Regions from separate parts of the Homo sapiens genome. Here region 1 is linked to region 2. The links come from fine-mapping of genetic effects on gene expression. A gene starts in region 2. The other region holds a variant in brackets. All regions are shown on one strand. Distances are between the middles of the regions.

Region 1 (2,748 bases), 52 kb after region 2:
TACAGGCGTGAGCCACCGCGCCCAGCCCTACTTGTTTTTAAGGCTTCCTTGAGTAATCCCTGCTGAATGCAAAAGATTTTAAAATTCTATATATATATGTGATTGGTACTTGGGACTCATAAATTCATATACAGGAAATGCTTCTTTGTTTTTTCTTTTGTTCGGAGACAGGGTCTCACCCTGCTGCCCAGGCTGGAGTGCAGTGGTGCAGTTGTAGCACACTGCAACCTCAGACTGCTGGCCTCAAGCCATCCTTTCACCTCAGCCTCCCAAAGGGGTGGGATTACAGGCACACACCACCACACCTGGGCAGAAATTTCTTAATATCATATTATTTGAAAAGATTTGCTGTAACAGTCCACTTGGAAGCATGACCTCAGTTATACAGTAATATATGAAAAGAGAATAAATGCAAAGATCGGCCTTATTTGTGAAGTTTAAATTTTTTTGTTATAGGGCCAAAGAATGTGGTGCTTCGCCTAGCTGTAAAATTTTTTCCACCTGATCCTGGTCAGCTACAAGAAGAATATACAAGGTAAAGAGCTCACAGAGCTGAAGCTGTTGTCAGCAGGAATCTTGTATTCACCTGTTATCTCCCACAGCACCTGGCTCATTGAAAGAATGAATAAGCCTGATATACACAGAAAAGTGACCATGAGTGTAGAGTGGTTAACAGAAGCATGTTGGCAGTTGACCCTTGCACAAACACATGTGAATAAGACTTCAGTGTAAGGTTTACAGTACAAATTTGAAAATAAAAAATGGAATGGGATGTTAGGGTCATGTTGAACTTACATTTTCCAAATGAACATAGATTTATGCATGTTCATAAGGTTCTCAGGGATTTTGCTCATATATACTTATTTATCAATAAAATATACTTAATTGGTAGAAGTACCCAGTGTGTTAGTTCTTATGGATTTATGGAGCAGAAATACTTTGGGTCACTTCTTTTGTGCTACTATTTTGAATTAAAGATCAATTCTTTATAGGAATGATCTAAAGATGGCAGGGTGCAATGGCTCACGCCTGTAATCCCAGCATTTTGGGAGGCCAAGGCGGGCAGATCACGAGGTCAGGAGATCGAGACCATCCTGGCTAACACAGTTTTGAAACCCCGTCTCCACTAAAAATACAAAAAATAAGCCGGGCATGGTGGCGGGCACCTGTAGTCCCAGCTACTCAGGAGGCTGAGGCAGGAGAGTGGCATGAACCCGAGAGGCGGAGTTTGCAGTGAGTCAAGATCACATCACTGCACTCTAGCCTGGGTGACAGAGCGAGACTCCGTCTCAAAAAAAAAAAAGAAAAGAAAATTATCCAGGCGTGGTGGCAGGCATCTTTAATCCCAGCTAATTGGGAGGCTGAGGCAGGAGAATCTGTTGAATCCAGGAGGCAGAGGTTGCAGTGAGCCGAGATTGGCATTTCAGTCCAGCCTGGGCAACAAGAGCGAAACTCTGTCT[CA/C]AAAAAAAAAAAAAAGAAAATATTAACAATTGTTTCATCTGGACAGTAAGGTTATGGAAGGTTTTTCTTTGTATTTTTTGTATTTGTTCACATATCAATTATATTATGAAGAATAGAGGAATAACCTAAAAAGCAACTGAAAACCCAAAATTAGATATAAAAGAGAACTATGATGTTGTAGTGGTATCAATAACTTTTTTGCCTTCTGGCTAAAAGTGTACTCATAAATGAATCAGATGTCTTATGAACTCTCTTTTAAAGGTTTCTGCATATCATTTTAGCAACACAAAATCGTAGAATGTCAGCTGCAAGGAAATGGAGAGACCACATTAGTTCACCCTCTTATTTTTAAAGGTTTAGGAAACTCCAAAGATGGCAAAAAGTATTTTTATGAGTGACCATAGATCTTAATAGTGTATTAAATGCCTGACATTTACCAAAAAAAAAGTCTCTTTTGAGGGAATCACTTTTAAATAGAGATAGATAGATAGATAGATGATAGATAGATAGATAGATAGATAGATAGATAGATAGATACCTGAAAATGATGGATAACAAAGTGTCCCCTCATTCAGGATCCTGGGTCTCAAGTTCTAGGACTCATGCTGATAACTCAGTATTATAGTTACTCCCTTCTCCCCCATATTTATGTGGAGGATTCTTTTTTCTGTTTATAAAAATGTACATGTTTGTGGTAAAAGAATTTTTTTTCCAAATAAAGCTAAGGGCCAGGTGCAACGGCTCACACCTGTAATTCCAGCACTTCAGGACGCCAAGGTGGGGGGATCAGTTGAGCTCAGGAGTTCAAGACCAGCCTAGGCAACATGGGGAGACCTCATCTCTACAAAATATCAAAAAATTAGCCAGGCATGGTGGCATGCACCTGTAGTCCAGCTACTCTGGAGGCTGAGGCAGGAGTATCACTTGAGCCCAGGAGGTTGAGGCTGCAGTGAGCTGTGGTAGCGCCACTGCACTCCAGCCTGGGCAATAGAGTGAGAGCCTGTCTCAAAAAAAATAAGTAAACAAAGATAAGTAAAAAGTAAAAGTTCTCCATTTACTCAGCACCTTATTCTCCGCATAAGTACGTATCTTTCAGATGAAAGCATAGATGTGCAATAAACACATAGATATCAGAACTTTAAAGAAATTACAAATGTTATAAAACAATATCAAATGATACGTATTGAACTGTAGGTTGATTTTTCCCCCCACTTATTAAGCATGCTGTGGACATTTTTCCATATCGTATATAAAAATATACTAAATTAGGCTGTAACATAATTTCAT
Region 2 (2,731 bases):
GGGGTCCCTAGGCCAGAGGAAGGCCGTCCTGGCCGCCACCACGGAGCAGCCTGTCTCAGCCTTAGCACAGCCTCGCGCGATCCTTCGATGATCCCCTTCGGTCCCTGTAGTCCCACGAGGGATGCAATGCGTTGGAGGAAGGAGGAGGCTGGCAGCCAGGGACTGAGCCAAAGGGTGCAAGGACAGCCGGCAAGGCCCGGGCCAAGACCTATCCCCGCCCAGCGAGCCAGGCCTCGCCCAGCACCTATCCGCGCCCAGCAAGCCTAGGCCTCGCCCAGCACCTATCCGCGCCCAGCAAGCCTAGGCCTCGCCCAGCACCTATCCGCGCCCAGCGAGCCTAGACCTCGCCCAAGACCTAGCCCCGCCCAGCGAGCCGACTCCCCGCCCAGGACCTAGCCCCGCCCAGCGAGCCGACTCCCCGCCCAGGACCTAGCCCCGCCCAGCGAGCCGACTCCCCGCCCAGGACCTAGCCCCGCCCAGCGAGCCGACTCCCCGCCCAGGACCTAGCCCCGCCCAGCGAGCCGACTCCCCGCCCAGGACCTAGCCCCGCCCAGCGAGCCGACTCCCCGCCCAGGACCTAGCCCCGCCCAGCGAGCCGACTCCCCGCCCAGGACCTAGCCCCGCCCAGCGAGCCGACTCCCCGCCCAGGACCTAGCCCCGCCCAGCGAGCCGACTCCCCGCCCAGGACCTAGCCCCGCCCAGCGAGCCGACTCCCCGCCCAGGACCTAGCCCCACCCAACGAGCCGACTCCCCGCCCAAGATCTAGCCCCGCCCAGCGAGCCTTGGCTTCGCCTAGGACATTGCCTCGCTCAGCAAGCCGACGCCCCGCCCAACGAGCCGAGCGCTGCACAGATTTATATCCTACGCAGCTGCCTGCCTGCTCCCGCCCCTTCTCCGTCCGTTCACCAATCAGAACTCGATCTTGCGCTTTCAGGCCGCGGGACGGGAAGGCTCCGCCCTGGCGCCCCGCAGGCCAATCGACTGCGCGTCCGCGTCGCGGGGGCGGGGTCAGGGCGGGGCGCGCTGCGCGGGGGCTGCCGGCGGGCAGTTGGGAGCAGGCGACGCCGACGCGAGTCTGGCGGCTGCTGCTTGCGACTGCGGAGGCCGGGCGAGGCCGGTGAGGACGCGGCGGGCGAGCGAGAGGCCGAGGGTGAGGACGTGAAGCGGCCTGGGCGCGTGGGGCAGGGGTGGGCCTCTCCGGGTGGGCGGCGAAGCCCGAGGCCCGAGGCGAGAGGCCCAGGCGGGGGGGGCGCTGAGGCCGCGGTCCACCAGAGATGGTCCCGCCCGGCCTCTGAAGGCCATCGTGAGGCGGCTGGAGCTCCTAGGCGGGTCCGGGTTAGAGGAGCGTCCGTCTGTAGGGAGCCTGCCGCGTGGGGGCAGGCGGGGCGGTGGGCCGGGGAGTGGCCCGCGTGGACTCCCGGGTTGAGGGGTGCCGCGTGGAGGAGGCCGGTGGGGCTGTAGACCGGGGAGTGTCCCGCGTGGACTCGCGGGTTGAGTTGTGCCCCGTGGAGGCCGGCAGGGCCGTGGGCCGGGGAGTGTCCCATCCCGGAAGGACACCCCAGAGTGGGCCATAGGGACCCGCAGGGTATGGGCCTGGAGGTGCCTGGTGGAGGCATTTTGAGCCGTTTGCCTTTTTAGCATTTCTTTAAATTGTATCTTAAAGGTGGGAATCAAGTGTTAGGTGTTAATATTTTTACTCCACTAAGGGCTAGAAATACTCATAAGCCAGTGGGTAGCCTTTGGGAAACCCATGAAAACTGGGGACCAGAATATGGCCCAGTACATTACACACCCGAATTACGGGCACCTTTTCCGTTTACGCTATGGCAGCAACCCCTGGCCTATCATGTGCCATTAATGGATGTGAAAAGCAGAAATTAGAACAAGGCATCATTGAAGGAAAGATTGTCAATACATAGTGTTAAAAAGGGATGGGCAAATTTAAAACCCAAGGCCAAATCTTTAAAGGGTGGTTTTTCTCTCTGGGTTTTTGTTTTTGTTTTGTTTCCGTGGGATATTTTTGTCTGGGCCACTGTGTAAATGTTTGATAACCCTGAGGTGGCAGTGGGTTAGCGTGTTGGTCTTGTGTAGACTGCCTTATAACAGGCGACACAGATTTTCTCAGTACCAGAGAGATGGGAGAGGACATTTGAGGTAGGGAAGCATGGAGTAACCTTTACTTGTAGGCCAAATATAATTTAAATTTTCTACATCTGCTTGTTGAAAGTTTTGTTTTGTTTTGTTTTTTGAGGTCCTTAAAGGTTTAGGAAGCACTTCATGCTCGTTATTTATTCAGTTTTCCAAAACTCTTCAGAGACATGACCAAGTTGCACAGCCCCGTTTTAAAGTAGAGGAAAGGGAGGTTGAGAGAGGTGGAATGACCAGTTTAGGGTCACACCTAGGGTACTTGCAAATACCATCTGTACTTCTCATGTGCCCTATCCTTGTTGCAGATTCTCATTAGGTGGTTCACTGTTAACAAACTAAATGCTGATGATGCAGTTTCCTGGACTGCAGACGTTTGCTGGCTTATTTACCTATAGGACTATCAGTCGTTAGTAAATTTCCAGGTTCCTTGTATACTAATTCCTTTCCCAAAGAGGAAGTTGATATAAGGTGTATTCATTTCTCTCTGCCTCAGGTTCCTTATTCAAAAAATGAGTTTAAAATTTACTTGGCCAGGCACAGTGGCTGTAATCCCAGCACTTTGGGAGGCCGAGGCAGGCAGATT

Direction of the effects. Alleles are on the strand shown, and positions count from the first base shown. SD is a standard deviation of normalised expression in the study named.
As copies of C replace CA in region 1, the expression in non-classical monocytes of the gene that starts at base 1,047 in region 2 goes up (large effect, 0.77 SD a copy in Schmiedel 2018).

Evidence for each region. PIP is the estimated chance that this variant, and not a neighbour inherited with it, causes the effect.
Region 1: its variant is fine-mapped to the expression of FARP2 in non-classical monocytes (Schmiedel 2018, PIP 0.95).

What each region holds. Positions count from the first base shown.
Region 1 is chr2:241,407,081-241,409,828 of GRCh38, forward strand. It overlaps FARP2 (FERM, ARH/RhoGEF and pleckstrin domain protein 2), which reads left to right. Exons shown (of 27, transcript NM_014808.4): 5 at 457-535. Among named protein-coding and RNA genes, the nearest start is that of FARP2, 52 kb to the left of the region's middle. The variant CA/C (reference allele first, on the strand shown) is at 1,461.
Region 2 is chr2:241,355,239-241,357,969 of GRCh38, forward strand. FARP2 (FERM, ARH/RhoGEF and pleckstrin domain protein 2) reads left to right here and starts at 1,047. Exons shown (of 27, transcript NM_014808.4): 1 at 1,047-1,150. RefSeq lists a silencer at 835-1,384.